Linked DNA regions of Homo sapiens: regions 2, 3, 4, 5 and 6 are each reported to be linked to region 1. The links are microRNA targets in miRTarBase. Many come from high-throughput screens and were not tested one by one. Region 1 holds a microRNA gene; each other region holds the end of a gene's coding sequence.
The links. The annotated mature microRNA hsa-miR-298 reads AGCAGAAGCAGGGAGGUUCUCCCA and lies in region 1 at 1,173-1,196, shown strand. An mRNA with a match to its seed (bases 2 to 7 or 8) in the 3' UTR can be bound and repressed. Matches are read on the target gene's strand: a 7mer-m8 pairs with bases 2 to 8, a 7mer-A1 pairs with bases 2 to 7 and ends in A, and an 8mer does both.

Region 1 (4,108 bases):
TTCTCTCTTAAATCAACAATAAACAACAGCCTAAAGATTGCCCGTGAAAGTAAGTTCCACTGATGGCCGTTCTGGCCGTTGGAAGCAAGATATCAAGTTGGAGTGTGACCGCAGGCGATCATGCCGCAGGTGAGTGTGTGTGCGCCTGGTTTCATTTCTGTTGTTAATCCTTTGCCCTGTTTTTCTCTTTGTTTTTATTCCAAACCTGTCTGCTCCCAAGGGTCCCTGTCTGCTTCCAAGGGTCCCTGGAACCTTCTGCAGCTGTGCCTCTCCAGAGCTCCGCCTCATTAGTGCCACGTTCCTGGTTTGAAAACCATAGTACTTCAACCTCTTCTAGATGGGAGTTAACCTTTGCCCTCTGAAAGAAAGGTTTGATAAGCAAAGAGAGTTTGGTGAGCAAGATCCTTGAGGTAAGAGCTGATCTCTGACGTCCGCTGGGAACTGGCTGCTCTGCAGGTTTCTGTATCACATTTTCTGCACATGTCCATTAGAATTGGAGATGGGGCGTATCTAGTGTTGAATAAAGGCCCGGCAGGCCCTCCCAGATGCACCCTGTCAGACAGAGCCTACTGTGGATTCTTTAGAAATGGCTTGACTCATTCTTGGTGGCGACCACACCACCCACAGGCACCTAAAATGAAAGGATTTTTGTTAGCTGGTTACCACCAAACCACCTCAGGCAATACGTGGGAGACTCCAAACCAGCTGCTGTTAAAAAAAAAAAAAAGGCAGCAGAGCAGTCATAGAACAGACCCTTCTTACTGCTGCATACAAGATGATCCCATGGAATGCAGGCAGCCACAGCTTTGTCCACATGTGCTCTGTGTATCTGGGGCTGCTAGGCTGGTTAGATTTGTGGTCTTCTTCCTCCTGTGGAGGACCCTAGAGAGAGCCAGCCTGAGCCCTCACCGTTGTTCCTTCCCCGGCAGCACTTACAGAATGATCCTCTAAGACCTCCCCTCCAGCCCTAGCTGGGTTCCTAATTTTCCAGCTATTTAATATCTTCTTTATGTCTCAGTGAATGTTCCCAGGCAGAGTAGCCAGACAGACTCATACTGACAGTTCTCAACAGCCAGTCCCATCCTCCTAAAGATCTCCAGAATCAGCCACATGGACCTGATGCTAGAGGCCTGTCAGCACTGGGGGACCCGGGAGAAGCAGCTCAGGTCTTCAGCAGAAGCAGGGAGGTTCTCCCAGTGGTTTTCCTTGACTGTGAGGAACTAGCCTGCTGCTTTGCTCAGGAGTGAGCTGCCGGCTCCCCTTTGATGTGCTGCGTCTGTTCAGAACTAGGCAGGGGTGCTTCACCGTGGCAGCACTTGAGTTAGGCAGTGGTTCATGGACTCTTCTCCCAGGGCCCCACACAAAACACTGTTAGCACAGACCTGCCACTCAGATCAAGGTGGCCAGCAGAGCCATCAGAGAATAGCCTTCAGAAGATGAATGGCAAGGCCAGCCGGCAGCACGTGAGGCCAGGGCAGAGACGCAGTGAACCGTTCCATGGCGCCCCGAGCCTGCTGCCAAGGCCTCCTTGGAGCTGAGATGGAGGCGGGGTGGCTGAGAGGCAAGCTGGATGTGCATGTTTGGGAAGAGGGCTCCGTAGAAAGTGCTGTAGGGGCCTTGGCTGGGGACCACGTGAGCCCTTGTGCGGAGAGGGCCTGTGTCTGTGGATCTGGGGTCCACCACAGGCCACTGAGATGGGACAGGGCTGGGAGGATTGAGGAGGGAAGATCCTGAGTGAAATTGTGAAATCAGGCCCAGCCTCATGTGGGAGGTGAGGAGAAAGGACCCTTCCAGAGGGCCCCCCCTCAATCCTGTTGTGCCTAATTCAGAGGGTTGGGTGGAGGCTCTCCTGAAGGGCTCTGAAGAGCGCTGCACCCGCAGCTGTGTGCCAGGAGTGGAGACAGGACAGTCGATACAAGAGGGGCCCCTGTCATGTCAGCTGCTGAGTCCCCTGGGGCGGCCGGGCACTGGGGAATGGTGAACTCGCCGTGCCGCGCCTCTGCCACAGTCTCCCGTGGGTCCCCACTGCCGGGAGTTTTACCTACCTCCCACCCTCAGCCACGAGCACCTGCAGGATGCGGTGCCATCCTCGCCGGTGCCCGCTCCCCTTCCGGAGGCTCTCTCCACCCTCACTGACGCCTCCTCGGGAAAGCCCCCGCTCCTTCCCCGACCTCACAGCATGCCAGGTCTGGGGCTTCCGCTGGGGGGCTTACCTGTTTTCCACCCCTGCTAGACTGGGAGCTCCAGGGCAAGGCCGTAGCTGCCTTGCGGATTGTTACGTTGTCCAGCTTGTCTCCACACGTGATACCCAGCAGGTGCCTAATAAACTTGTGTAGAAAGAGTGGTGGATGTTTGCTCTTGTATTTACTCTTCATAGAGCCCAGCTCTGCTTGCTAGAGTCCTCGAAGCAAGTGCGCAGTGTCTGACGGTCTTGGGTTGCTTCTGACTCATGGTGGCTGCTTGGGGGTCATGCTGGAAACATGGCACCCTCAACTCCTGCGTGGAACCAGTTGCCCCCACTGTGATTCCTCTTGCTGCGGCTGGCCCTGCCTTCATGGCATTAGCGCAGCGGGGAGTTGCGGGCTCACTGTCTTAACACCTGTCTCCCCCACCAGACTAAACCCCAAAGGGCAGAACTCTCTCATACACTTAGGACGGAGCAGGTCTCAGGTTATTGCTGGACGGACCAATGGATGAGTGGATGGACAGAGCAAAAAGATGAAAAGACAGGAAGGCAACTGGGGTGTGACAGGCAGGGTGGCCTGACGCTCCCTGTGTGGACAAGACTTGGTGGGAGGTGCCGGGCATGGCTAGGAGGACTTGGGGTGCAAAGTGTCCCCACATCTGTCCTGAGGGCAGAAGCAAGGGTGAGCCTCCCTCCTGCTAGAGCTGGCGGAGTCTCCAAAATAGAGTCCGGACCTGCAGGAACAGTGGCCCTTCCCAGTGCAAGAACGTCACTCAGAGTTGAAAGTTCTGGGGTCTCAGGGACCCCTGAAGTCCATTCTTGAGCCCTTCCCGTGGCTGTGGCCTCCCCTTAGGCAGGGGAAAGGGGGCCAGTGGGGAGCTTCCCCAGGGGCCTCTCTGCAGGAGGCCGCTGGGCACATGGTGGCCCCGCGCTGGGCGCTGTCAGCAGAAGTGCCTGGATCCAGACCCTGGTGGAGACAGCAGGCCAGGAAACCAGTGGCCCCTCTGCCCCCCACTGGGGCCCCATGAGTTACACCAGCCAGGCCCCACAGCTGAGGTACCAGGCGGAAAAGGCCTTGTGTGAATGGGGCAAGAGGCCAGGGGCGCTGGGGAAGGCCAGGAAGAGAGCAGAGAGGCCTTCACTCACACGCAAGCGCACGCCCCAGGGGCTCAGGCCTTGAGACATAGCTTGAGGTGGGGGTGTGGGGGGCTCCCTGCTTGTTCCCGCTAAGGCTGGCACCCCAGCCCTCTCTTTTGGGTGTCCCCATGCCTGGGCTGTGCCGTAGCACAGTTCATGGGAGCCCTGCCCCCAGGCCCTGCAGCCCTCACTGCCCCCAGCCCTGCTGCAGGGTTGGCCTCCCTTCTGTCACCCCACCTGCCACTCGCCCCTCTGTCTCGGGAAAACCCACTGTGATTCCTTTCCAAGGCTGACCTTCCTTCTGGTGGCTTCTGCCCCATTCCAGCTCCCCTTTCCCCATGGGATCATTAGACACCGAGCCCTCCCGAGGGCCCAGCCATGTGGGTGGAACACGGCAGTCACAGAAGAGGGAAGAGCCCTTTCTGCATGGAGCTTGCTTCTGGAGGGGAGAGACAGACCACCAACAGGAAGTGGGTGGGCTGTGTCGTGTGTGGAAAAGCGGCATGCTGGGAAATGAAGCGGGGCAGGGGAGCAGCAGCGGCTCTCCCAGGCTTCCCTCCTGCGGCATCTGTGCACCCCAGGCCTTCACCCTAGCACTGCTGACCTTCAGGGCTGCTTCCATCCCTGGTGGGGGCCGTCCTGGGGATTATAGAGTGTTCAGCAGCTCCCCGAGCTAGATGCTAGGAGCCACCACCACCAACGCCAAAAAAAGATAGATGCATTTGCCACCTGGCTGGTTGCTCTCTGTAAACGTGAGCTAAACTGCTGGCCCAGGATCGTTGACAT
Region 2 (4,108 bases), not on the chromosome of region 1:
TATGCCAGTAAGAAGTTTGAACTTGACCTGGGGTTGCGGCTGGTGACTTTAGTGAGGTCATTGACCCTAAATGCCCTCATAAGGTTGGGTTCCACTTTGATTTGGAGTTAGCAGAGTCTGACCTACAGAGCCTCACAAGTCAAGGCTCCTCTCTTCCTCCTCCTCATCTCCCTCAGCTACCTCACAGCCAGAAAGCTTCCGTAACTGGTTGGAGTCACATGTTTTAATCTGTGGTCAAGCCCTTATGCTAGAGGGATCAAGGTCACCTGAGAAGTCCTCCCATTGGCCAGGACTTGCCGTCTGAAAGGGGCCTCTATCCTGGTCATGTGGCTGGGCGTCTTTTGCTTCCCAGCAGGATCAGATCCCAAAGTGTGTTCGTATTTATCTGGTCCTGCTATCAAAGAAGTCACTCAAAGCCCCTGCTCTGGGCTGGTGAGTTGAGCCCAGGTTGTTTACGTCTTTCCTGGGAGCTTTCTAACATTTCAGGAACTCTCAAGGTTTCAAAGGGATGCAGTAAGCTTTGCTAAATGTCTGTCACAAAGACAATAATTGGATAGAGCAGATAATCTATTCATTGAAAGTATGGGATTTTTTTTTAAAAAGAGGATATAAATAATGATAGGTCTGTGAGCCAGCATCCTCAAACATGATTACTTACAAAAAGTTTAAATGGTTCATAGCAAATTTCCCCATTTAGAATTTTTCCCCTCTCTCCTGCAACTGGAAAAAAGCTGGAATTTCAGTGTGGTCATAGACAAGCCCTCTCCCCCAAATGGATGCTTGTGAACCTGTCTGTCCCTTCCTCGGCAGAGCCCCTTCAGGACGCTTGGAAGGAAGACAAAAGGCCTCTCAATCTGAGATACTTTTCTTCACTTTTCCTTAAGCCCAAGTATGCCCTTCCCCTTAAGGGAGAAATCTAACTTTTCAAAGAAAATTAGAAATAAAATGCCCAATTGAAAAACTGGGTTTTCCTGAAAATTATTTCCCTTCTCATAGAATAAATCCTTTGTTTTAAAAATAATCCTTAGAACCCCAACTGGAAGCTAACAACTTTTCCCGTTGCACACCTTACCCTATCGCCCAGCACACCCACACACAGGGAACTCACACATGAGACCTTTTGCAGAAGCTGACCAGAGTCCCCGGTAAGGAAGTCTTGAGTAGGGCACCCACACCTGTGTGCAGGTGTGTACTGACACAAACGTACACAAAATGCACCAGAGAGATACACATACAGAGAGATCCACATTCAACCCCATTCATGCACATCAGATGTCATATCATATCCAGATATGAATTACATACACGCAGTTCAAAGGAGCAGATGAGGGTGGAAGATAGAAGAGAGAGAAGGTAAGTGGTTAGTAGGTGAGAAAAGGAGGAGAGTGGTAGGAAGATGGGTTGGAAGACGTGTAAATGAAACAGATTACACAGCAGTGGAAGAAAGGCTGCTGAGTGCCTGGCAAAGCTCCCAAAGCATATTTGTTTATGAAACAAGGGGATTCTCTGCTACACAGTTGACCATGGCTACACCAGCTCAGGGATTCTCACCTGGCCTCCCCAGGGCTGCTGGGCACCAGCAGGCTCACTGAGATGACTGTGAGCGGCTCCAGCCCACTCCAGCAGACTCCCACCCCTACAGCGTTCACAACTCTCTGGCTGACTTTGCTTGCCAGCACCTGCAGTGCTAATTTGCTCAAATGAGCCCGAGACACTGGGGTGGATTTATTCCACCTCTGTTTGGGTGCTAGCCACTAAGACTGTTATTTTGGGATTCATGGCCTTGAATATCAAGAGGGAAAGGAAGAGGATGGAAAGAGTCAAGAGTTCTGCATTAATTTACACAATATCATACAAACTTGAGCCCATGGGAAATGGAGGTGCTCTCTCTGCATGTGACCCACTTCCTTTCGTTTGTACAGAGGTCACCCCTAGGGAAAGGGGAGATGTCCAGTGACAAAGGACAGCTTCTATAATGGGGAGTGAAGGTCTTGTTGGTTTATGTTCTTGTACAACAGCAACCAGAGCAACATTTCTTCTCTCTCCTGAACTGTGTGTTCCCCCTCTTCTCTCATGGCTTATGTGCCCAGCTGTGTCTTGAACTTCCAAAATTAGAGGACTAAATCGTGCAGAGTCCCAGAGCTGTAATGTGGAGAACCACGGGGGTCCTCTGGCCCAGTGGCTTTGTTCTTGGTTCTGCCCTCTGGAAATTTCAGCTATACCAGAAACAATTTAAAAAAACACAACACAAACAATAAAACCCCACGCTCAAGAAACATCCACCACACACACACACACACACACACACACACACACACACGCACACACACACCACTCCAGGGATCTGTAGCTGCAGAATTGGCACCCTTATAGGCCTGTCCCTCATGACAATTTCTAGGTCTCTGGGCCTCTATCTGGGGCCATGAAACCACTACAGTGATAAGAGAGACAACAGTCATAATGCAGTATTTCCATTTAAAAGGTAGAAAAGAAAAAAAGGAAACCGCCCAAAGTACACATGCACGCACACCCACACACACACATCACAGCATGACTCCAAGGCTCCAGTCTGCCCAGGGAGTGCAGGTGCGGCTGGGGACAGGGTGGCCTCTTGTTTCACTGGGTGTAAGGCAGCTGGAAGGTAAGACTGGGTTGTCTGAGCATCCACCGAAGCGTCCTTTCATTGATGCAGATCTTGCCTCTCAGCATGTTCTCTTCCCTTCCCACCTATGAAACATGGTCCAAAAGTTTGGCAGCAAAGAGAAAACGTCCTTCTCAGTTTGTTTTCTCTTCCACTCCTTGTGTGTTGCTGGTGGGCTGGGAAGGAAGTCCGAACAGGAAGAGCAGGAGAAGAAGTGATTCTGAAAATGGCCTCAATAATTTGGTTACATTCTAGGAACTGAGGGCTTTGTTACCCTGTGATATGACTGGTTAGGGGTGGCGTCCTCTCCCGTTGACCCAGTGGGTGGCACTTCCTTCTCTACATCTGTGCTGCCTCAGACCCCTTCCACTGTCCCTTCACCACCCCATCCTCGCCAGTGATGGGGATCAAGACGCGGTCGCAAGTGGTGGTGTTTGCTCTGTCTTCAAGAGACCATGAAGCCAAAAGTCAAGAACTGATGGAAGAGCCACAGGATGGAAAAACTTTCCCCATCTCAGAGATGAGGCAACACAAAGTCCGGCGAGATGCAGGTGCCTGAGCCAACTCAACTCTACCTTGGCACTGGCATCGTCTTGATTTAGTTTTGTTTTGTTTTATATATGTATATTATATATATATATTTATATATATATATGTATGTATGGGTTTGTTTTTTAGCACACTGTCCCATTCTCGGGTCTGGATTTAGGGTAGTTGGTCCTCGGGACAGGTTGAACAGAAGGGGCTAAGGTACAGAAGAATCCCGAGATGAGTGTGAGGCCCAGGCCCCCCCATGCACAGAACATGGACCAGCCATAGCCATGGCTGATGTCATCAGGGAGTCCGTACAGGTAGCGTGGGTAGCGTGACAGCTCAAAGTTGATCCCGGCCACACAGGTGCACAGTGAAATGATGCAGAAGGTTCCTGGAGGACAAGGGAAAAGACACAGGATGGGGAAATGGAGAAGGAAAGGGGAGAGGAGCGGGAGAGAGAAAGAGAAAAGTTAATATTATTACATTTTCAATTTTCTTGAGTAGGAAAAATGGGAAGTCTAGGTAAGAGCAGGTTATCACCAAGGTCAGTATCTGGAAATATTCATGGAGCAGAGAATAGTATTAAAGGATCATCACTTCATCACTCTCCAATAATGGCCCAGTCTTGGACACACTCGGGAAGTCTCTCCTTTGGGAAGATGCTAAATAGATATCTCATGAGCATTTTGTGTGGGGTAGAGTGAGCAGAAGAGCATTCAGTTCATTTTCCTAAAGCATTTTAAATTCATTGTATTTCTTTGGAGACATGGAAAACACCTACTGTTTGCTACTTCTTTAAAGAGAAAAACAATCTTTTCTCTTTCTTATACATAACAACTTACTCATACAGTATTAGGTTTTCCTTTAATCTGTTCACCAACAATTCTTCCAAAACCTGGAAATATTTTCCTTTTTCCTATAAGACATTTCCCA
Region 3 (4,108 bases), not on the chromosome of region 1:
TTACAGGCGTGAGCCACAGCACCTGGCAACACATTTTGAAAAAAGAAAAAAAAAAAACAATAATATATTTTAAACCTAACATCTAAAATATAATCATTTCAACATATTCTTAAGATAAAATTGATAATGAGAGTTTTACATTATTTTTGCAATTTTTATTGTGATAAACATACATAAAATAAAATTTAACATTTTAAACATTAAGTGTACAATTCAGTAACATTAAGCAGATTCATATTGTTGTACAACCATAACCACTATCTATTTCCAGAACTTTTTTTATCATCCCAAACTGAACCTCTGCACCCATAAACAATAACTCTCCATCCTCCCCTCCCCCAGCCCCTGGTAACCTGTATTCTACTTTCTTTCTTTATGAATTTGCCTATTCTAGATACCTTATATGAGTGGAATCATATATTATTTGTCCTTTTATCATCTCGCTTATTTTATTTAGCATAATGTTTTCAAGTTTCATCCATGTTGTAGCAGGTACCAGATTTTTAAGAATGAATAATATTCCACTGTATATATAAACCACATTCTGTTTATCCATTCATCTGTTGATGGACATTTGGGTTATTTCCACCTTTTGGTTATTGTGGATAATGCTGCTATGAACATTGGCACAGAAGTCTTTGGCCTACTTTTTTTTTTTTTTTTTTTTTTGAGAAGGAGTGTCACTCTGTCGCCCAGGCTGGAGTGCAGTGGTGGTGATCTGGACTCACTGCAAGCTCCGCCTCCCTGGTTCAAGTGATTCTTCTGCCTCAGCCTCCAGAGTAGCTGGGATTACAGGTACCCACCATCATACCTGGCTAATTTTTGTATTTTTAGTGGAGATGGGATTTTACCATATTGGCCAGACTGGTCTTAAACTACTGGCCTCAGGTGATACACCTTCCTCAGTCTCCCAAAGTGCTGGGAATACAAGCGTGAGCCACCGTGCCCAGCCTGGGCTACTTTTAAAAGTTAAAAATCTTAGGACAGAGGAAAGGGGAGAGGAGATAGTAAGAATATATAAACAACCTATCATAGTGGGAGACAGTAAGGGATTAGCTATTCACAGAAGAGAGAGAAAGAAATCCACTATTCATTAAATTGTCAATATGGCTATGTTGTTAGGCATATGGAAGTAGGCTGGAGGATCCAAATTGCGGTAAAGCAACGGACAGGAAGGTAGAAGAGGACTGAGATTGTGGGGAGAGACATAACAGAGTTTAACCTCATAAAATGAGGCACCTGACCTCATTATTTGAGGGTGGGGCCCAACACCTGAATCTCCACTTTACAGAGCATGGGTACACTTTCATTTCTTTAGAGAAATCACCCATTTCTTCCATTGTGTTTTCTCCCCTTAGCCCTGGCCTATGCACATTGATTAACTGCATGACTTTGGAAGCCACTTTACTGCCTCTGAACAATGAAGCACAGTTGAATGCTCACAGATCTATATGCTAGCAGAATCTGTCATCAGTACACATCAAGTATCTGTGGTTCCCTCCTCCTAAGAGAGAGCCTACAGTATAGAGTCTCCCTCATGGTTTATCTACCCAAGTCCTGCACCCAAGACTTGTTTAGTGAAGCTACAGAGGGAACATATAGGCCCAATGATTGTATTCAGATCTCAGCTGCTCACTGGATCTGCTCAAAAGTACAGTGGGAATACCCTACCTTGAAATAAGATGCATTCAGCATCCTTACTAACGTGTGAACCATTCCAGTCAGGATTCCTGCACTGGTGAGAAAGAAGACTAGGAAATCACTCACATCTCCAATTCTGATTTATAGGATTCTATAAATGTAAAATCAATAGGCATAACACTCAGCAAAATTTAAAATAAAATTTTATTTTATCTTATACTCAAGTTCAGACAATAGCATGTGGTGTACATTCAAAATTTTTGACAGGTACAGAGCACATTAAAAAATGAAGACATGATCAAGGAGATGTAAGAGACAAATAGACAACAACATTCTCCCTGAATCTGGAAAAAAGCAAGCAATAAGATCACGAAAGGCAGCTGTAAAACAGGATTATTCTGCATGTGTTGCCCACAACTAGGGCAAGGTTATCTCTCATCACAAGTACAAAGCCATTGATGTTAGTGTGTAACAGAGAGAAAACAGAGGATTTGTACAGCTGAGGAAATAAATGGCAGATGTTACACAGGAAGCAATATAACATGGTCATTAAGTAACTGTATTCAACCATCAAATTTAATTTTAAATCTTGGCACAGTGCCCACAAGCCGTGTGACTTTAGTCCCCTTGATAATATAAACTTCATTTCTCTCACTTATAATAAAGAGACACAAATGGTACCTACTCCATAAAGTTACGAAGAACACATAAAACCTGTGAAGCACTTATAATAGTGCCAGAACATTGTGAGCACACATGAGATGTTCATTGGCATTATTATTAAGGGCTTATATAAATTCCCAGGTAATGCATAATAACAGTAGAGACTGTGACAAGCCCTGGCTTCCATAAATTGTCAGCTTCATTTTCCCTGTTTCATTTGATATGTTATTCCATTTTATGCTTTGAGACAGGGTCTTGCTCTGTTGCCCAGGCTGGAGTGTAGTGGTACGATCGTGGATCACTGTAACCTCAAACTCCTGGACTCAAGCGATTCTCCCACCTCAGCTTTCCAGGCAGTGGGGGCTATAGGTGCACACCACCATGCGAAGCTATCATATTCCCTATTTAAAAAGTTGTACACAGGCCGGGCACAGTGGTTCACACCTGTAATCCCAACACTTTGGGAGGCTGAGGCGGGTGGATCACAAGGTCAGGAGATCGAGACCATCCTGGCCAACATGGTGAAACTCTGTCTCTACTAAAAAATACAGAAAATTAGCCAGTCATGGTGGCACGTTCCTCTAGTCCCAGCTACTCGGGAGGCTGAGGCAGAAGAATTACTTCAACATGGGATGTGGAGGTTGCAGTGAGCCGAGATCGCGCCACTGCACTCCAGCCTGGTGACAGAGCGAGACCCCATCTCAAAAAAAAAAAAAGTTGTATGTGACAGCTAACCATAATAAAAAAAAAAGAAAGAAAAAAGAGAGAGAAAGTAGGGACAACACTAAATCATTAGTAATTTGAGCACATTTCCTCCAAGGCATATGCTATTTTTCAACTTGGTTTCAATCATGTATCTTTATTGTTTTTCTTAATGTTATAAGCATGTTTGGTTTTATTGTAGTCTTTAAATCATGTAATACTTCATTAGTATGTATTATTCCACATAATAGTCCTTTAGGTAGATGTACCATACTTTAGTTTACTATTCCAGCCAGAGAAAAGTACTGATGTGCTTATGGGCAACTGGAAATAAGCTAGTGTTAGAAATAATTATGTTTATCAAGCCAATAAAGATAAGGAGAAGTGTAGTGTTAAGGGTCACTTGCCTCCCACAGCCTGCAAGTCCTTGTCACAGCTGATCTTGAACATAGCCAGCACCCGTGTTCTGATCTGTTTGGTTTTGGCACCATAGATGATGGGATTGATGACAGGAGGCAGCAGCAGGTAGATGTCACCCATGACAACACGCACAATGGGATGAAGGCTGTTTCCAAAGCGGTGTACCACTGAGAGGCCAATAAGTGGCACATAGAAGGCGAGTACCACACCAATGTGTGACACACAGGTTCCAAAGGCCTTGGCCCGCTCTGACTTGGAAGGCAGTTGCAGAACCGTTCGTATTATCAGAAAATAGGACAAGGAGATGAACATTACGTCCACGCCCATGACCAGCAGAATGGCAGTAAGACCATATACCACATTGGGCAAAGTGTCTGCATAGGCCAACTTCATTACATCCTGGTGGACACAATAGGAGTGCGAGAGGACATTGGAGTGGCAGAAGGCCAGCCGCTTGATCAGCAGAGGCAGTGGGAAAAAAAAGAGGGATCCGCGGACCACAGCCACGATGCCAATCTGGGCTGTTACTGTATTGTTGAGCACTGCAGCATGGCGCAGTGGGTGGCAGATGGCCACATAACGGTCAAAGGCCATGGCCAGCAGGATGGTGGATTCAATGGCTGAGAGGGCATGAATAAAGAACATCTGGGTAAGACAGGCCTCAAAGCTAATCTCTCGGGAA
Region 4 (4,000 bases), not on the chromosome of region 1:
TTTTGTGCATGTTTTAGATATGGAAAGAGGTAGGTACAAACACAATGGTGATGCTTTTTCTAAAGGGGAGTGTGGACAAATCCGAAAGAGGGACATGCAAATGAAAGTCAAATTTTTAACAAAAGGTTTTTTTTTTTTCCTTTTTTCTCTTCAGCTTATAACAATCAACCAACAATGGAAACCCATTGAAGAGTTGCAAAATGTCCAAAGGGTGACCAAATGACGAGCCCTCGCCTCTTTCTTCTGAAGAGTACTCTATAAATCTAGTGGAAACATTTCTGCACAAACTAGATTCTGGACACCAGTGTGCGGAAATGCTTCTGCTACATTTTTAGGGTTTGTCTACATTTTTTGGGCTCTGGATAAGGAATTAAAGGAGTGCAGCAATAACTGCACTGTCTAAAAGTTTGTGCTTATTTTCTTGTAAATTTGAATATTGCATATTGAAATTTTTGTTTATGATCTATGAATGTTTTTCTTAAAATTTACAAAGCTTTGTAAATTAGATTTTCTTTAATAAAATGCCATTTGTGCAAGATTTCTCAAAGATTAGGTATATATTTAAATGGAAGAGAAAATATTTTTATGGGAGAAAAATACATTTGAACCATGAAATTTCATCTTTTAAATAACATCCAGTACAGATTTCTGTGTAAGCTTTTTTTTCCAAGTTCATTCATTCACTAGTAGTTTATTGAGCATCTACTATTTGCAGTATAGCTAACAAAGCCAAAATTTGGTGGGATACGAATAAAAGATGGTAAGTACAATGAGGAAAATGAAGTGGGGATGAGGTTGGAGACTCGCATGAGGACTGACCTTGGAGGAAGTGTAGGATTCTGGAGATGAATTGGAATGCAAGGCATACTGAGATCTGCCCTAAAGATGCCAAGCCAGGCTGGGCGCGTGGCTCACGCCTGTCATCCCAGCACTTTGGGAGGCTGAGGCGGGCAGATCACAAGGTCAGGAGATTGAGACCATCCTGGCTAACACAGTGAAACCCCGTCTCTACTAAAAATACAAAAAATTAGCTGGGCGTGGTGGCGGGCGCCTGTAGTCCCAGTTACTCGGGAGGCTGAGGCAGGAGAATGGCATGAACCCGGGAGGCAGAGCTTGCAGTGAGCTGAGATCACACCACTGCACTCCAGCCTGGGTGACAGAGTGAGACTCCGTCTCAAAAAAAAAAAAAAAATGCCAAGCCATACTGTGATGTTCCTGTGGAGGCTAGGGAGAGGAAGATGGGGAGCCTTGCCAGCGCTCTTCAGAGTTTGGGGCCACTCTTCCCTCTGGCCAATGGTAACTTGAAGGCTGAAGATACATTCATATCCAGCATGCCGCTGGGCTCCCCTGCCTGTCCCTAAAAATGAAATAAGAAGAAAGTTGCTTTTCATTAACTTTTTTTAAAAAAATGGAGATATAATTCACATGTCATAGTATTCACCCATTTAAATTGAACAATTCAGTGGTTTTTAGCGTATTCACAAAGTTGTGCAACCATCTCCATCTACTTTCAGAACATCTTCCTTACCCCAGAAAGAACTCTGTACCATTAGCAGTCATTTCCCTAGTCCCAACCCCTCTGCTCCCAGCCCCAGGGAAATACTAATAAACTGTCTCTATGGATTTGCCCATTCTGGACATCTCATGTAAATGGAATCAGGCAATATGTGACCTTTGGGTTTGGCTCCTTTAACTTGGTATAGTGTTTTTAAGAGTCATCTATGTTGTACCATGTTTATATTATCAGTATTTCATTACTTTTTCTGACAGTACTCTTCCAGTGTAAGGATATGCCATTTTTGTTCATTGGTAAGTTGATGAACATTTGGGTTGTTTCTACTTTTTGGCTATTATGAATAATGCTGCTATGAACAGCCATGTACAAATTTTTGTGTGGCCATATATTTTTGGTTCTCCTAAGTAGGTACCTAAGTTCGTTAACTTTTTTTTTTTTTTTTTTTTTTTTGAGACAGGGTCTTGCTGTGTCACCCAGACTAGACAGGCTGGAGTGCAGTGGCACCATCTCATAAACTTTGCCTCCTGGGCTCAAGCAATTCTCGTGCCTCAGCCTCCTGAGTAGCTGGGATTACAGGCATGCACCACCACCACACCTGGATAATTTTTGTATTTTTAGTAGAGGCAGGGTTTTTGCCATGTTGGCCAGGCTGGTCTTGAACTCCTGACCTCAAGTGATCCAACTGCCTGATCACTTGAGGAAAGGAGTGATCCCTTCCCTCCCCATTGGATCATGGCTAACACCCCTATAACAAAAGACAGGTTAACTAGAAAAAGCATAACACACTTATAGTTTACTTGACATGGTAGCCTTCAGAATGAAGACCCAAAGATATAGGGAAAACTGTTCATTTTTATGCTTATGTTCAATGAAAAGTCGATGTAGAAATATGATTGGACATGTAGAAATATGGACAAAAAGGATATGGTCCTAATGCTATCAGAATAGACTACATGGGGAAGCTCACCAAGGCCTGTCTGCAGCATTTCCTTCTGCTGGGTGTGGGGGTGGGATCCCTCTGGAATGAGTGTCTTAATTTCTTTATGGCCAGCTGTTACATAGAAAGGTGGGGGAAATTTAAGAGCAATATATTTAGGTTTTATGGCTGGCTTTCAGGAAACGGGATTCTGGCTTCTATGGCCGGTCTTGGAGAAGAGGAATTCTAGTTTCTATGGCTCACCTGGGGAAGAATCAGGGTCAACAGACAGGAGGGCAGAGAAACTTTGCTTCTGCGGCCTTCATTTGGGGTATCATTTTTTGGGCTCCAGCGTTACCTTCACAGCAATAACAAATAACTAGGTTTTGCCAGGAACTTGGCAACTCTGAGAGGATTAAAGCAAGACTGCTGCCAACTTCTGTTGCTTCCTTATCACCTCAAGTCGTCTCAGATTAAAGTCTCTGATAGTTGATCTCAAGGAATTACACGTAGCAATTGGGAAGCACATTTTTATTTGCTTAAGCTTCTAAAGTCTAATGTAATGTCATTTGCACAAATAAAAATTAACGGTTGGTCAACTAAGAGAGCAAAGTATAGAGTGTTTTTCAAGGGATGACTGTGGCTTTCAACTTTAAAACACAAACCTGATTGAAATGTGGTGGTGTGAACATGGCAATGGGAGGTACTTTTCTGCAGGTTTAGGAGGGAGAGAGGCCAAAAGCAATGTTGATGCTTAAATTTCAAAAGATTTGGGTTTTGTTGTTGTGTTCTTAGCATTTCCTTCAAACATTTTATTTTGAAATTTTTCAAATATGCAGAGAAGTTGAAAGTTACTCACACTTCTTATCAATTAACATTGTGCCACATTTGCTGTATCTCCCTGTGTATGTATGCTTTTCAAAAATTAACTCGTTGAGGCCAGGCACAGTGGCTCATGCCTGTAATCCCAACACTTTGGGAGGCTGAGGCGGGCAGATGGCTTGAGCCCAGGAGTTTGAGACCAGTGTGGACAACATGGCGAAACATCTCCACTAAAAATGCAAAAATTAGCCAGGTGTGGTGGCACACACCTGTGGTCCCAGCTACTTGGGAGGCTGATGTGGGAGGATCACCTGACCCTGGGAGGTCAAGGCTGCAGACAGCCTTGATCTCACACCACTGCACTCCAGCCTGGGCAACCCAAGTGAGACCCTGTCTCAAAAAAAAAAAAAAAAAAAAGTGTTGAGAACAAGTTACAGACATGAGGCTTTTTTCCCTAAAAATTTAAGCATGTACTCACTGCCTAAGATAAAAGACATTGTAGCTGACTAGAATACCATTATCATCCCTAAGAAAGTTAACATTCATTCAATAATATCACCTATCATAAATATGATAGTGATATCATAAATATCACCTTTTTTTCCTCTAATTGTCTCAAAAATATCCTTTATATCTGTATTTTAAAATCCAGAATCATCTACTCCAAGGTTTACTTGTTGCATTTGTCTAAGTTGTACTGAGTACTTGACTGACTTGTGGTCATGAAAATGACTCCAAAGCAGCTT
Region 5 (4,108 bases), not on the chromosome of region 1:
CAGTCTCTATGGAGACCAAGAAGGTGCTTATGAACATCCAGGCTCCAGCCTTTTCCCTGAGGGTCCTAATGACTATGTCTTCAGTCATCTTCCACTCCACTCTCAGCAACAAGTGCGAGCCCCTATCCCCATGGTGCCCGTTGGTGGGATCCAGATGGTTCACTCCATGCCGCCAGCCCTTTCCAGTTTACATCCTTCACCCACATTGCCCCTGCCAATGGAGGGCTTTGAGGAGAAGAAAGGCGCGTCAGGGGAGTCCTTCTCCAAGGACCCCTATGTGCTTTCTAAGCAGCATGAGAAGCGAGGTCCTCACGCTTTGCAGTCATCTGGTCCACCTAGCACTCCCTCCTCTCCTCGGCTGTTGATGAAACAGAGCACTTCGGAAGACAGCCTAAACGCAACAGAGCGGGAACAGGAGGAAAATATACAGACTTGTACAAAAGCCATTGCCTCTCTCCGGATTGCCACGGAAGAGGCAGCTCTGCTCGGGCCAGATCAGCCAGCGCGGGTGCAGGAGCCCCACCAGAACCCCCTGGGAAGTGCACATGTTAGCATTAGACACTTTAGTAGACCTGAGCCAGGTCAGCCCTGTACCTCAGCCACCCACCCTGACTTGCATGATGGTGAAAAGGACAATTTTGGTACATCACAGACTCCATTAGCTCACTCCACGTTTTACAGCAAGAGTTGTGTGGATGACAAGCAGTTGGACTTTCACAGCAGCAAGGAATTATCTTCAAGCACAGAGGAAAGCAAAGATCCTTCATCAGAAAAGAGTCAGCTACATTGATCTATGATGCATGGAGACTTTCATTTCCACATTTTCCCATTTTTTTGTTTTTGTTTTTCTAGAAATGGAGGTAATCCAGTTTATAGCATGCCTGTCCTAAGTTACAGTAGTTTGCTATTATATATACTTTTGTTATATCAAAAGAATTAGGTAAATTAACAAGTCATCATGAGCCTGACCAAAACAAAATTTGAAATTAACCTATTGGGTCTGGTACTTTTAAAATTGTACAGATGTTTGTGCCTTTTCTTTACTTTGCTTATATTCTTATAAGCATTTTTTAGCAGTAATTTGTACATATTTTAGAATTTGTGTATCTGCTTTGTAATAAATGTAATTTCTTTCCTTTTTTGGACACTTGGATCTAAATGATGTAAAGCAAAACAGCATCAATATATATGTGAGGTTGCACTAAAACATATTTTTATATGATTAAAACTGAACAGCTTTTATGTACAGCTCTGATTCTGTAATACTAATATTTATTTACTTTGTTTCATAAATTGTACATTTTTTCTTAATGTTGTGGATTGCTTTTCTATGTGAAGCATGGGATTTACTGTTGCGTAACTAGAACAAAAATGTACATTGTAAACAAGATATTTAAACTAGAGTATCTTATTCTGCACTTATGCATTAGTTAAAAAAAGATAAAGGATGTATCAGTCAGTTCTTAACTCTTGTATATTTTTTTGTCTCTTGTTTGCTGGATTGACTATAACTTAAGTGCTGATTGTGATTTTAAAATGATAGTACCGTAAAGCATTAAAGTAAACAATGTGCTATTGTGAGTTTTTTCAAAGCTTTATAAATCAGTTATAAATAATATTAAAAGTATTTGGTCTTATGTGAACATGTTGATCTATATACTCATCTAAAAATATGGGAAAACATTCCACCCCATGTAAATATGTACAAGTGCATCACTGGTACAATTTTATGTAACTCAGTTGGACACTAGGTTGCCACAGACCTATGCTAGGTGTCTTTAAAAAATTAAGGTGACAAAGCACATGGGACTGTGTAGAGCTTGGTTATCGGCCGGCCCGGTGGCTTGGCAGGCAGTGCTGTGCGCTGCTCATGGAGAAGACCTGGGCTTAGCAATCTCCTTAGTTCTTGCTACACAGGATGGTGACTGGAACTAAGGCTACACAGAGGGTCGCACTTGGACTCTGAGGGTTGGGTGTGGAAGGGGGAAAAGGAGATGGAGACCTGCTCCCCAGCTCTTCCTGTCAGCCGGTTTACATGGGAACAGGGTTAACATCTGTGTTAGGGGAGGTCACCTTACCCTTTTTCATAGGGGAAGAGTGTCACACTCCTGGCTATCTCAGGGGGAATGGGGAAAAGAATCTTTCAAGGGCAAAGAACTCGTGGGAGGATGTCTGTTGTATGTAATACTCACAATGGCTTTTGGTTAGTGTTGAAGGTGGGAAGAGCATTTGTAGGTCCAGAAGAGTGAAAGAGAGGGAGGGGTGCAGCAACATGTGCACAGGCACGCACATGTGTGCACGCACACATACAATCTGGGTTATCTTTGTGCTATATAGTGGATTATAATTCTGTGAAACCAAGTTTGTATATTGAATTACATTAAGGAGTGTTCTTTAAAAAGAGAAATAAATATACAATTACATGCTTGAGGTGTCTAGTTCTTATGTGTTGCTTTACATTTTAATTTCCCAATTTTGTTTCTAAAGTAATTTTGATACTAGCAACATACCATCTGTGCTTTTAATTGCTAGGCTCTGCCCATCCTGAGTGTGAATGCTTTTAACAAGTGAGAAGACAGTCATTGGCTTCCATAGATTATCTGATTAGAACAGATAGTGGTCACCAAGGTGTGGGCCCTAGGAATAGACTTATCCAAACCTCAGCATGGGCCTGGGCAGCATACGTTGCATCTGAACAGATTCATGAATAAAGCAAATTATCATTTTTCCTCTGCCTCTCTTGCAGTATGCATACTTATCTGAAATTCCACTGGGGAAACCTCTTCTTTCTTTTTGCTAAGGTGGCTGAAGCTAAGAATCAACTAAAATATATCAGAAGATACCCACAAATCACAGTTCTTTTATTAGAATGAGTAGAATCTTTTTAATAATAAGAGCAGAAGCTCATTAAAAGTCAAAACCTATTAGTATTTTCACTATAAAAATCTCAAATTTGTGGATTTACAATGTACCTATTTGCTTTTATGAGCCAGACTGTCTTTTTAAACTGTGTTTTACAAAGGTGATTTAAAGGTCAACACAGACACTCTAATATCTGTCTCTTACCAAGAAGAATCTTTTGATTATGTAGGGTGATTTGTGTGTCATATTCCTCATTGATGTGTGCGTGCGTGTGTGTGTGTGTGTGTGTGTGTGTGTGTGTGTGTTGGTGATCCCAGGCCAAATCAAATTACTCTGTTTCCTCCTCTACCTAATTCATCACTCATTTATTCAGTCATTCATTCATTCATAAAAGTTATTGAGTGCCAACTATGAACTGGGTACGATAGTGGGCATTTATTTTTATTTTTATTTATTTATTTATTTATTTATTTATTTATTTATTTGAGAGTCTTACTGCAGGCCAGGCTGGAGTGCAGTGGTGCTATCTCAGCTCACTGCAACCTCCGCCTCCCAGGTTCAAGTGATTCTCCCATCTCAGCATCCTGAGTAGCTGGGTCTACACGTGCATGCCACCATGGCTAATTTTTGCATTTTTAGTAGAGACAGGGTTTCACCATGTTGGCCAGGCTTGTCTCAAACACCTGGCCTCAAGTGATCTGCCTGCCTCAGTCTCCCAAAGTGCTGGGGTTACAGGTGTGAACCTAATGCTCCCAGCCTGGTGGTGGGCATTTAGAATTAATAAAGAGTATCCGTGCCACCAAGGAGCTCAAGTAAATAGGAAAGACATATATGTAAGTAAATGTGGATAATATGATGTTTGAGCTAAAATAGTTGCACATTTGGTTTTATAACCATAAAGGGAGAGAGAAATCATCCTGGAGAGAGCAATCATCCTGCTGAGAATGAAGAAAAGCTTCATCACAGAGGTAGCCTTAGAACAGATCCTTGAAACAATAAATTGACTAATTCATTCAACGTAGCTTTTCATCACCTACATTGGAGTACTCTTGTGTGTGCTAGGTGTCCAATATGGCACAAAACAGATAAAGTCCTTGCCTTAATGGAGTTTATATTCTAGAGGAGAGGGCAATATAAAAAATTAGTGGGAAAACGCATATTAGATCTGATCTGAGATGTGTAAAGCAATTAATGTGTAAAAAGCAAGATGTAGCTGGCACCCTAGGTATGTGGCAAGGTAGTACAT
Region 6 (4,100 bases), not on the chromosome of region 1:
TATGAACTGGTTTTCAGGTGGAGAGTTAAAATAAGAATTAAGTGATGGTTTATACTTTCAAGCCAGGAGATTCAAAGTTGGACACATTCTTGTTAGAATACACCAATGGTGGGACAAACACCAATGGATTATCTACTAGATGCTGAAAATGAACACCTACAACTGCAATGTGCCTGTCCCCTTAAAACCAGCCCCAGACTCGTTTGGCATCACCTTTGAGATGATCTCCTCAGTAAAAATGTCAACGCTGTGTTTGGACAAGAGAGAAGTGCCTTTCAGGGAGTGACTGAACATGTCAAAGTTCTGGGTGCTGGCGTTAAAAACACAATATTGCAGATGTACAGGTAGCTTCCAAATCTAATGGAAATATTATCATGACATACTTTCTAGTTCGTTTGAGATTCAGGGGAAATGGATGTCGCATGGTATAGACAGTGAAACCCCTCCACAGTCCCGGGGTTGGTGAACAGGAATAACACTTGTTTTAAGGACTACTCAAGTCTATCAGTCTTTCTCTGTAGGGAGTTATGTAGCAGGGCTCTTCCATTATCTCAAGGATATCTGAATATGGGTAATAACAAACTGTCATAACAAGATTCTTCTGTAGATCTTGAGCCCCTGTGGCGCATTTTGGAAAGACAGGACTACTGAGAAAATTAACTCTTTATTACTTTCAATTGTTAAGAAAGAAATCTCATTATATCCCCAATGATAACGTTTCTGTCCTTACTCAAGAGGTCTGGGTGTGGGTAACAGCCACCTCCCAACAACGTCAGAGGTCCGGGTTCAGAATTCCTCAACGCGACTCAGTCACTGGCTCAAATAACTACTGTGGAGTAACGAGAGGTCATTTTAACACAACAGAGACTCCAATTCAACTCTCTTCTGTTAACACAGTCAGAGTTCTCTTCTCAATGCTCTCACAAGTTTTAAAAATGGAGAAGCTATAAAATAATTTTGTTAGAAGAAAAGTAATTTTCTTCTGAAATGGAGTAAAGCAAACACATACCCAAGGATCTTAAAAAGTTTTTTTTTGTTTTTACAGAATATATGTATGTATTTGTGTGTGTGTGTGTGTGTGTGTGTGTAGTTACAAACACTATTTATAGTATAGCTAATATGTTAACTTCATCGCAGTGTCTACAAAGTTGTGGATCCCAGTCTTGGTGCCAAATGCATATAAAAAGCTCAAAAGCTATTATGACTATACCATGCAAATTTATATCCAGAAAACCTTGGGAAGGAGACTGCAGCTCTTTGGAGCCCCATGGGGTCTCTGCCTTTGATATTTGGGTACCTCAACTATGCATCAAAAAAGTTTTAAATCACTTTTCTCCCAGAAAGAATTAATGTCACAGTTCTGAATAGTATAAATTATACACTTAAATAGACCATTGACTGTTTTTGTCCACATCCATTTACATTTTGGGGTCCCTCTTCTGCATGTGGACCTCACACCTTTAATTACTGGATACAGAAAAAGATACCTGAAGTATTGAAAGGGATAAGGTCTTTGCAAATGTATTTTTTTTCTTTAACATGATAATAATGATAAGGCCACTTAACAAGGTTTTTCCCAATCTGTTTAACTTTTAGGATCCCCCATTGTTACCCATGGAAAAAATGGTCAGAGAAAAGCCAAAGCCAAAGAAATCCCTGGCTAGTCTCCAGATGAAAATAAAACCAGAGAGCAGCGATTAGGAGGAAAAAGATAGGAATGAAAGAGGGAAAAGGGTCTAAAAGTAGGTAATTGCCTCTAGCGTGAGATTTTGTGGATTATGTTTTATCTGATGGTGGGTTTTGAACTGTTGCAGATGCCCACAAATTAAAGGTTGTTACGGCCACCAAAGAAAAATCAAGTAGTGGTCAGCTCATGGGGATAGTCCACACCACACGCATCCTCGGGGAGGGTGGTGCCTCTACCTACATCGAGACAACTGGGGCCTACCATTGGAGCACTCTGGTCCTTGGTTTTGGATAGAACAGAGAGGGTGAGGCATACGTGGCATTTTGGGATAAAGTATTAATTTAGCAGTTCTTCCTGCAAATTTTGCTTTTTATTTTTTTCTCCAAATGCTCAACTTCACTGTGACACCTGTTTGCACAACTGTAGTCATTTCAGTTTATGGATGCCTGTGATAGAAATATTGTTTACAAAAAATATATCATCTCTTTTTTTTTTCTTTAGAAAGATCTCATCTAAATAGTAAGTTAAGGTTGCGTCTATGAAACCGGTGCACCTTGTCTTGTTTCTACGAGCTTTAAAAAGTCCAAATACTGATGAGGCTGTGGATCAGAAGGAACCAACAGTGACTGTGTTTGCTGTCAGGTTGCCCTCCTTTGCCTCAGAGAACGGTCATGGGTCGTTGGGTGACGCGTGGTGTGTACGGGTCATGTTCCTGCAGAATCCTAGTCAGTCTAGGAGTAGTTGGATGTGCTTATGAAATATGTCAGATACAGAAATAAAGGCATGAGGATGATTCTTAGTTTCTGAAATTGAACAGTAGAAGTGTTTTAGCTTCAATCTTAATTTCTAGATAACAGAAAGTAGTTACATCACATAAAGGAAAATATGACATCGCATGCTGCCATGATAGCAAGCGTAAGAAACAAAATCTTGGTAAATATACATATATATGCATATTATGCAAATATATTTTCTATTAACATACAATGTTATAAGAATGATAACATAACTGCAAGGGGGAAAATCATCCTAGATGGTTTTACCTTAGAGTAACGAATAACCTGAGACGTCTATGCTTTCTGTTGGATATCAGGCCTAGAAATCCATACGAGATGTAGAGCACATTTTCAGTGATTGAAATGTCACTGGCCAAACGTGTCACTGTGTTCGCACATGACAGTGAAGCTGGATCCACTCCAAGTGAACAACAGAAACAAACTACACACTGTATATTAGAGTACTTACAACGAGATGCCATTCACTCCCGATGAGTTTTCAAAAGACGGTCGTTCAGACATCAACGTGGGATCTATCTATGTTTCAGACAACAGGTAAGCACACTGCCAGTGGCTCACCCCAGCCACTAAACCATTGCAGAAAACGTATGCCCGATGAAAACAAACCCCATCACCAGAGAAGCCAAGAAGCCTTTGCTTACTAAACTGAACGAGAGGATATGAAGTAAGTGACTCATTTTAAACTAGCAATACCACTGTATGAGTTTTCAAAGATTAACTAAGAATGTCTTTCTGATTTTTAAACTAAAACATCTAACTTATGATAATACAAGACACATTTGGGGATGATATTGTGTTTCACGCCCTCATTCTCAAGGCATAATATTTAGATGATACTTGTCCCTTTCAATTAAAAAAGAAAAAAACTATGACTTTCTTTAATATGCATCCTGTGGTAAATTGTCCATAGCTGCAAAATGTATATATGTATGTGTATTTGTCTTCCATACACATGGGCACTGACTCCTGTGTGTATAAACATATACACATACATCCTCATATACACGTGTATTTTATATATATGCTGAGAAAGTTCACATATATATACAATTGCGTATGTATATATGTGTGTGTCTGCTTGTGTGTCTGTGTGTGTACAGGTATAAAAACTTGACAGGCAGAGTAATATTTCACTCAGTGTTAAATGAAGTCTTTGAAAAATCAAGTACAGTCACTCAGTTAACATAGTACAGCCAGTAAACTAAGTTGAAAAGAGAAAAAGTGAATGGAAACACGATCCTGGACCATCTGTCTATGGCATTCACATCGGTTAGATCAGGTATTTTAATTTTGAGCTGTGAAGACCTCCTCCGTAGATGGGTCTTCTTGTGCGGGAGGCTTCTGTCCCCCAGGAATCGCCCATGCCCTTCTCGAGGCATGCTCTGTTTCCTGTACTGGATTCCTGAGTTGTCAAAGGATATTGCTGAATTCCTGGTATCGCCAATGCCGCCTGAGACCTCATTCATTTCATTGTGAACTTCCAGCGATGTCAACAGAATATTTCCATGAGCATCCACCTAATTGGACGGAAAATGCACATGGTTAGACAGCCAGCAGCATAATTTCCCTATGCAGATCCCGGACAGAATGATGTCATGCCATCACATGTTGCATGT

Region 2: miRTarBase lists TMEM178B as a target of hsa-miR-298. Seed matches in the 3' UTR shown: 7mer-A1 at 2,352-2,358 and 8mer at 1,122-1,129.
Region 3: the mRNA of OR51E2 is a reported target of hsa-miR-298. Seed matches in the 3' UTR shown: 7mer-m8 at 2,913-2,919.
Region 4: miRTarBase lists COXFA4L3 as a target of hsa-miR-298. Seed matches in the 3' UTR shown: 7mer-A1 at 277-283 and 7mer-m8 at 318-324.
Region 5: the mRNA of HIVEP2 is a reported target of hsa-miR-298. Seed matches in the 3' UTR shown: 7mer-A1 at 1,412-1,418.
Region 6: miRTarBase lists GABRB3 as a target of hsa-miR-298. Seed matches in the 3' UTR shown: 7mer-A1 at 3,060-3,066 and 7mer-A1 at 2,401-2,407.

What each region holds. Positions count from the first base shown.
Region 1 is chr20:58,815,368-58,819,475 of GRCh38, reverse strand. MIR298 (microRNA 298) reads left to right here and starts at 1,163; the gene lies at 1,163-1,250. MIR296 (microRNA 296) reads left to right here and starts at 1,782; the gene lies at 1,782-1,861. It also overlaps GNAS-AS1.
Region 2 is chr7:141,469,994-141,474,101 of GRCh38, reverse strand. TMEM178B (transmembrane protein 178B) reads right to left here. Exons shown (of 4, transcript NM_001195278.2): 4 at 1-3,566. The coding sequence ends at 3,316. Among named protein-coding and RNA genes, the nearest start is that of AGK-DT, 79 kb to the left of the region's middle.
Region 3 is chr11:4,678,344-4,682,451 of GRCh38, forward strand. It overlaps OR51E2 (olfactory receptor family 51 subfamily E member 2), which reads right to left. Exons shown (of 2, transcript NM_030774.4): 2 at 1,828-4,108. The coding sequence ends at 3,406. Among named protein-coding and RNA genes, the nearest start is that of OR51C1, 17 kb to the right of the region's middle.
Region 4 is chr15:45,432,794-45,436,793 of GRCh38, forward strand. It overlaps COXFA4L3 (cytochrome c oxidase associated subunit FA4L3), which reads left to right. Exons shown (of 5, transcript NM_197955.3): 5 at 155-547. The coding sequence ends at 223. It overlaps MIR147B (microRNA 147b), which reads left to right and starts at 257; the gene lies at 257-336. LOC107987223 (a long non-coding RNA gene) reads right to left here. Exons shown (of 2, transcript XR_001751510.2): 2 at 676-1,357.
Region 5 is chr6:142,749,789-142,753,896 of GRCh38, reverse strand. HIVEP2 (HIVEP zinc finger 2) reads left to right here. Exons shown (of 10, transcript NM_006734.4): 10 at 1-2,428. The coding sequence ends at 790. Among named protein-coding and RNA genes, the nearest start is that of HIVEP2, 190 kb to the left of the region's middle.
Region 6 is chr15:26,544,134-26,548,233 of GRCh38, forward strand. GABRB3 (gamma-aminobutyric acid type A receptor subunit beta3) reads right to left here. Exons shown (of 9, transcript NM_000814.6): 9 at 1-4,001. The coding sequence ends at 3,660. Among named protein-coding and RNA genes, the nearest start is that of LINC02248, 150 kb to the left of the region's middle. RefSeq lists an enhancer at 2,135-3,334.